Linked DNA regions of Homo sapiens. The protein of the gene in region 1 purifies or fractionates together with the protein of each later gene. This does not show direct contact. Each region holds a gene or a part of one and is shown on either strand. Other genes may lie near its edges.

The links. The genes of interacting proteins can lie anywhere in the genome.
Region 2: the proteins of SRSF10 (region 1) and DNTTIP2 purify together in Homo sapiens (affinity purification with mass spectrometry, with the first as the bait; one large-scale study listed by BioGRID). This does not show direct contact.

What each region holds. Positions count from the first base shown.
Region 1 is NC_000001.11:23,977,528-23,981,824, forward strand, and holds the start of SRSF10 (serine/arginine-rich splicing factor 10), read right to left. Parts: upstream 2,801-4,297; 5' UTR 2,729-2,800; coding exon 2,664-2,728; intron 1,291-2,663; coding exon 1,186-1,290; exon of another isoform or gene 1,126-1,185; intron 1,102-1,125; exon of another isoform or gene 384-1,101; intron 1-383. UniProt on the Homo sapiens protein: Splicing factor that in its dephosphorylated form acts as a general repressor of pre-mRNA splicing. Seems to interfere with the U1 snRNP 5'-splice recognition of SNRNP70. Required for splicing repression in M-phase cells and after heat shock.
Region 2 is NC_000001.11:93,865,784-93,869,206, reverse strand, and holds the end of DNTTIP2 (deoxynucleotidyltransferase terminal-interacting protein 2), read left to right. Parts: 3' UTR 1-2,923; downstream 2,924-3,423. UniProt on the Homo sapiens protein: Regulates the transcriptional activity of DNTT and ESR1. May function as a chromatin remodeling protein. Part of the small subunit (SSU) processome, first precursor of the small eukaryotic ribosomal subunit.

The DNA.
Region 1 (4,297 bases):
AGTGGTTCTGACCCTACAAGACCACCAGAGCTGTTTCTAAGTAGTCCCCAGTGCATGCACCTGTCTCTCCTTTAAGCAGGGCTCTGTGGCTTAACCCCAGAACCCCACGCTACTCCAAAGAGCACTGCCTGCTACTCCGTGGCATCTGACCACCTGGTCCAAAACCAAAATATGCTGAATTTAATCTTAAGAATATACATCCTGTTACACTTTAACTTCATAAGAGAGAGTGCATTTACACAAGACCACAATCACAACATCAAAGGCCCACATAAATCAAGTTACAGGTTTTGTCACTAGACCAAACCAGAATAATTTTGAAAATTAACTGCTTACAAAACATTAAAAAAAAAAAAAAGAAAAATAGTTATTCTGTAGGATACATCAGGTATGACTCCTTTAATCTTGGCCATCATTCAACTTCATCTTGACCTTTAACTCTTTAAGTGCTTGTCAGAAGGACTTGTCATGAGATGCTTGGCCAAATATGACAGATGGCTTTATCTTTAACTTTGAAAAACAACCTTTTCCCCCTTTTGTAGATAAAGCGAGGCTTTGTCTCCCATTAGGCTTGTCCTTCTTCCAGCTTTTCTTTATTTTTTCTTTTCCCAAACTCTCCCTTCTCTTCAAGCCTGATCCTTAAGAGGTCTTTGGCTTGTCTACTTGCCTTAAGTGTTGAACTCTACTCTAAAGGTTCTTTCATGCTTTCTCTTTGGGGTCGCCATAACTGTACAGCTTTACATTCTCTGAGGTAACAACAGAGGACAGCAAATTAGGGGACAATATTAAAGAAGTTTACCTCATTGTTATACAATTTGTTTTTGATCAAGTGATTCAAATTAACAAACAAGAATACCAAATTTTAATTGCTAAGCACAAGAACATATTAACTTTTAAAGGACTTACATTAAAGGTAGTAGCAACCAGAGTGCATTCAAATTTAAATCACATATATAATCATCGATATGAGTTTCAGAAGCATGAATGGGAATTTATATATTTTACCATTTTTGGATTAACTTTAATAACGAGAGCAATGTGTGAGTCAGAATTAATTTTCAAAAATTTGAAGACAGACATTTATTAGAGGACAAAAAGAACTACTTTTTAGATGTTACCACTTACATAAACTTGAATTTCAAACTTCAACACCCCTCACTAATCAGCCATCTGAAGAAAGGATATTGAACATAAGCAAATCCTCTTGGACGGCGAGTGTAGAAATCAAGTGGAACATACACATCAACTATAGGACCATAACGACCAAATTCACGCCGCAAGTCTTCAGACCTAAAACATCATAAAAAGACCTCAAATTTTTATGTCCAAGTCCTTAAGATGTATAGGCAATATATCTTTTTGATGAAGGAAAGCTAGGATCCAAGAATTTGGAAGATAAAAATGCAGTTTACATTAACAGGACAACAGCAGACATATGTATGGTACAAGGGAATGACCACAACTTATTTTTATCTACAGCCGTCATTTTTCATAAAAGGTACAGCAGCATTAGGTTGTATATAAGCCTTGTTTTTTTTTTTTTTTTTACTTTTACAGCATCAAATCGACTCTAGCACTCTGAAAAATACCAAGCACTTATTTTTACTCCCCAATTTTAGCGACAGATTTACACACTTAACAGTAGATAAATATGGTCTGAAAAAGTCACAAATATCGAACTTCTTAAATAGTTAAGTGTCAAGATGACGTAAAGAGAAAATTTCTCTAGATGCTAACGTAACTATTAGAAATTATGGAAAGAATTATTTATGGAAAGAATTATTGCTTTCTTTCCTTCTTAAATTTAAGACAAAAGCAAATCACAAAGCTAGCAAAAAACCCCCACGAAACACCAAAAACCCAAACCACTTATTTTCTGTGTGTAGATTCATTATTTGTGAAATAAAAAGCCTCATCTTGTAGTAAGAACTCTTCCAAAATAATCTGAAGGCAACTCGAAACAAGGGAATGGTGAGAACAAAGCCTATTTAAGGTACGTCTGAATTAATCTAACTTAGCTGTCAACGTCCTAATGACTGACGCTTCCCAAACCTCCCTTTTCAAAGGGTGACCAGAATTTCCAGGAAATAAGAAAAACTACTCGCAACATTTAACTGGAAAAATCTAACTCCCCAAATCTCAACGCTCCCTTTCTCCAAACACCTCCAACTGATTAAAACCCCCAAATATTAACAACGGCAACAACAACAAAGATAAATGGTAGCAACATTCCTCTCCCTCGATCCCGTTATTTCATCTCACTATTTTTTGGCTGGGGAAAAAAAAAAATCTCTGGGCCAAGGGGGCGTGAACCTCGAAGAATGTGAACTTCAAATCAATGGGGGGCGGCCGTCGGGTCGCGGAAAGGCCGCGGCGGGGGGCTGCTCGCGCCGGCAGGAAGCAGGGAGAAAGGGGCTGCAAACTGCGGAGGGGGAGGGGGACCGAAAAACCCCGCCACGCGGCCCGGCGAAGGCAGAGGCGCCGCCCTCGCTCCCACGCGGCGGCTGAGGCCCGCTGCGCGGCCTAGTTCGGCGCCAAAGCGGGCGCGGGACCCGCCATCTTCACTCCGTCCCCTCCCCCGGCCCAGTGCCGCCACCACCAGGGTCCTCTCCAGGCGCCTGCGGCCTCCCCGCCTAGGCCCGGAGTACCTGCCTTGTACCTACCTGGTGTCGTCGGCCACGTTCCTGACGAACAGAGACGTGTTGGGGGGACGCAGGTAGCGGGACATGGCGGCGGCGTGTCTCGGCCGGGCGCACTAACGGGCTCAGCAAACCGTCCGCGGCTCAGGCGGCCGAGCCTCAGACACACACAGCTAGAGGGCTCTGCTACGGCAACCGACTCTTCTCGCGAGACTTCACTCCCGCCTCCACTTCCCCCTCCTACCTCCGCGCAAAGTCGGGCGCAACGGTTCTTTCCCGCGAGAACACCAGGCGTCCGCCTGCGCATGCGGAGGGCTGGCGCACGCGCCTCAGCGTCGGTGTCATTCGTTGGCTTCTTGCGGTGCCTCTTACCCTCCCCCAAGCCTGTTCTTTCTTTCTTTAGGTCTTCATTTCCCGCCGTTTTCTACCTTACACTCCACTTCATCTCCACCCCCAAATCAGGAAGCAGATGTTTTAGTCTCTAGGCCAAACTTTGCGGTTACTACTAAATGGACAGATTTTTAAACTATTTAGTTCAGAGAGGCTGCCTTAAATTTCCCGGTTGGTCCAAGTTAATGTCCTGCTTTTATTTTGCCTTAAATTTCCCGTTTGGTCCAGGTTATGCCCTGACCTGCGAAAGAAGGATTTACAGCTTGTATTGAGTGTGTAAAGGAAGGAGGTGTGTGCCCTTGCGCAGAGCTGGGCCTGTCTCTCCAGTGTTTTCAGCCTGCCTTTGCCCCTCACCCACACCCTAGCCATCTCCACTTAGTCACGCATTTGGCTCCCAACCTGGGTGGGACCAAACCTCACACTGTAGGTTCATGACTGTGGTCATTTGTAGTGTATTCTTTGTTGCTGACGGCTTCCTGGGTATGCATCGGACCTGTATTGCAGCAGTTCTCAAACTTTTTGGTCTCAGAACGCCTTTATATTCTTGTGTATTACGGAAGATTCCAAAGAGCTTTTTTTAAAAAAAGTGTGGGTTATACCTATTAATAAATAGTTAATGAGAACTTAAAATAGAGGAAACTTCGGCTGGGCTCGGTGGCTCACGCCTGTAATCCCTCCCTGTACTTTGGGAGGCCGAGGCGGGCAGATCACGAGGTCAAGAGTTTGAGACCAGCCTGACCAACACAGTGAAACCCCATCTCTACTAAAAATACAAAAATTAGCCAGGCGTAGTGGCGCGCGCCTGTAATCCCAGCTACTTGGGAGGCTGGGGCAGAAGAATCGCTTGAACTCGGGAGGCAGAGGTTGCAGTGAGCCGAGATTGCACCACTGCATTCCAGCCTGGGCGACAGGGTGAGACTCCGTCTCAAAAAAGAAAAAAAAAAAAAATAGAGAAAACTTTGACACACTCCACTACCCTTTATCACACATCATGTACCCTCTGGAAAACTCCACGTTTGTAAGAGAATGAGCATGAAAATAGCAAATAATCTTTAGTATGGTTTTGATTTTGGAGGCCCTTTTGAGAGCCATTTCCTGCTCGATAAGAGTCAACTTCTGGAGATGAGAGACTTCAGTTGGAATGCCTCCAGCGTGTGGCACAGTGCCAAGCAGGTAGCAGGGACTCAAGTACTGTTAAATTAAATGAACTTTTATTTAATAAAAAGTCATAAAGGCATTATTTTTGTGTCAATCAGCATCTAAGACAA
Region 2 (3,423 bases), about 70 Mb from region 1:
TGGCCAGGGTTTCTTCGAAGTTAACCCAGCTTACCTCTTCTCCAGTGGTACAGTATGCACCCTGGCTAAGCTGGTTTCTGGCACCCAAGGAGTGTTGGTCATTTCTGTTGATACTTGGTGAGTTGTAGCTTCCTTTATGTTACTATTCACTTTACCTCTATTTTTCCAGCATACTGCTTCCTTGAGATATCAGCAAATATGAAATCTTTTTTTTTTTTAATAATAGTTTTGGGGTACATGTGTAGAACATGCAGGTTACATAGGTATACACGTGCCATGGTGGTTTGCTGCACCCATCAACCTATCTACATTAGGTATTTCTCCTAGTGCTATCCCTCCCCTAGTCCCCCACCCACAACAGGCCCCAGTGTGTGATGTTCCCCTCCCTGTGTCCATGTGTTCTCATTGTTTACCTCCCACTTACGAGTAAGAACATGCAGTGTTTGGTTTTCTGTTCTTGTGTTAGTTTTCTGTTCTTGCTGAGATGATTTCCAGCTTCAGCCATGTCCCTGCAAAGGACATGAACTCATGCTTTTTTATGGCCACATAGTATTCCATGGTGTATATGTGCCACATTTTCTTTATCCAGTCTATCATTCATGGGCATTTGGGTTGGTTCCAAGTCTTTTCTATTGTGAACAGTGCCACAGTAAACATACTTGTGTATGTGTCTTTATAGTAGAATGATTTATAATCCTTTGGGTATATACCCAGTAATGGGATTGCTGGGTCAAATGGTATTTCTGGTCCTAGATCCTTGCGGAATCACCACACTGTCTTCCACAATGGTTGAACTAGTTTACACTCCCACCAACAGTGTAAAAGTGTTCCTAGTTCTCCATATCCTCTCCAGCATCTGTTGTTTCCTGACTTTTTAATGATTGCCATTCTAACTGGCAATGAGATGGTATCTCATTGTGGTTTTGATTTGCATTTCTCTAATGAGCAGTGATAATGAGCGTTTTTTCATGTTTGTTGGCTGCATAAATGTCTTCTTTTGAGAAGTGTCTGTTCATATCCTTCACCCACTTTTTGATGGGGTTTTTTCTTGTAAATTTGTTTAAGTTCTTTGTAGATTCTGGATATTAGCCCTTTGTCAGATGGATAGATTACAGAAATTTTCTCCCATTCTGTAGATTGCCTGTGCACTCTGATAATAGTTTCTTTTGCTGTGCAGAAACTCTTTAGTTTAATTAGATCCCACTTGTCAATTTTGCCTTTTGTTGCCATTGCTTTTGGTGTTTTAGTCATGCAGTCTGCCCATACCTATGTCCAAAATCTCATATTTACTGCTTGGAGTCAAAAGCTAGTAATAGCAGAACTGACAATAACATTCATAGTTGGAGTTAGGGAAGCATCTATGTCTGTTCTCTTTTATTTTAAAAAAAAACTACTTTTGTTTCTGGAATACTATGTTTTGCCTTCTACTGGATAAAATAAGGACCCAGTATGAGAGAATTGTATCCTTTAGTGCTTCTGGCCTTCTACAAATACCTGGATATTTAAATAATGGATGAAGTTATGTTTTGCTTTTTAATAAGCAAGTCTTTTGAGAAACAGGTTTTACTGACTTTGGCCTGTGTCACTAAACTCAGTTCACCTACTGGAACTTTTTTTTTTTTTTTTGAGACGTCTCACTCCATCACCCAGGTTGGAGTGCAGTGGTGCCATCTCAGCTCACTGCAACCTCCGCCTCCCAAGTTCAAGCGATTATCATACCTCAGCCTGCCAAGTAGCTGGGACTACTGGGCATGCCATTATGCCCAGCTAACTTTTGTATTTTTAGTAGAGATGGGGTTTTGCCATCCTTACCTCAAGTGATCCACCCGCCTCGGCCTCCCAAAGTGCTGGGATTACAGGTGTGAGCCACCATGCCCAGCCAACTGGAACTATTTGAAGGCTTTATACCAGAAAAGTATAAAGAATCCAAAGGGCTGCCACAGTCAGGTGTGCTGGTGAAAGAGACCTTCAAGATACCCCTGAGAAGATCTTGAAAGATTTCGAAAAGAATGCTGTATTTATACACCATCTGGCTCCAAGATGCTTTTTTTTTTTTTTTTTTTGAGAGACGGACTCTCGCTCTGTCGCCCAGGCTGGAGTGTAGTGGCATGATCTTGGTTCACTGCAACCTCCGCCTCCCGGGTTCAAGCAATTCTGCCTCAGCCTCCCAAGTACCTGGGATTAACAGGCACCCACCACCACACCCGGCTAATTTTTGTATTTTTAGTAGAGACGGGGTTTCACCATGTTGGCCAGGCTGGTCTTGAACTTCTGACCTCAGGTGATCCACCGGCCTCAGCCTCCCAAAGTGCTGGGATTACAGGCAGGAGCCACCACGTCTGGCCCAAAATGTTCTTAAAACAAAGTAGATGCTGTAAGACTACAGTTGATAAAGTTGGGCTCTGGGCTAGGTTCTTAGCATCCAACACAATCAGTTCTGTGTTCAGTGTTCTGCTGTATGATAAACCAACTGCTCTAGAGAAACACCAATATTCCTCTTCTGAAACCTGGGAAAATGTCTTTTTTGGGTCCCATAACTAGATGTCACAAAAGGAGTGGGGAGTGGGGAGGCTATATAAAAAAGTTCAACAAAACCTTAGTAACTGGTATACATTAATAGGATCCCATTCTTAGAAACAGCAAGTTAAAGAAAATACCATAATGGGAAAAAAAAGTTAACATTTCTGAGAGATGTACCAGGTATTCAGTCTCTCAGGCAGTGACAACTTGTTCAGAATAATTACCTACAATAGATCCCAAACCATTGAAAAATGCCTAATTGTTTACTTAATGGAATTTGTACTTACTATTTAATTAGATGAATATCTTTATTGAAAGTTTTCAGTAAGGGTTGCAACAAAAAGGGCTTTCTAATTAACCAATTCCCCAAGCATCTGTCTAATTAAAATGTAAAGTGCAATTATTCTCATTGTCACATAGTTTTTGAAGTGAAGAAAAATCTTCCAAGAAGTAGGATCAATACCATGACCTATAATTAAATGTCATAAGCGGATCAGTGTTCTATCACTGGAGAAATGAGACATCTCCAATGAACTATGAAATGTAAAATTAGGTAAGTTTGTGCATAGAGGATTTCTAGGAGGACATACAAGACATACCTTCAAATCAAGATGGCCCTGTAGTTCCTCAAGCTCAATTTTATCAATTCCAGTTACCCTCATTTCCAGTTCACTTTAGCGAATCACTATCATGGCCTTAGACTCGTTGTTTGAGAATTCAGTGGTCAAGATTCTTAACTCAGACTACCCCAATTTGTATCTTGTTATCTGTTATCCTGTTAGTCTTCCCTTCAGTTGTCTCCAACTTAGCCTTGGCTGCAATTTGGAATTACCTATGGTGGCTTCAAAATGCTGATGCCTGGGTCTCACCCCCCAAACATTGTGAAATCATGATTTCAAGCCT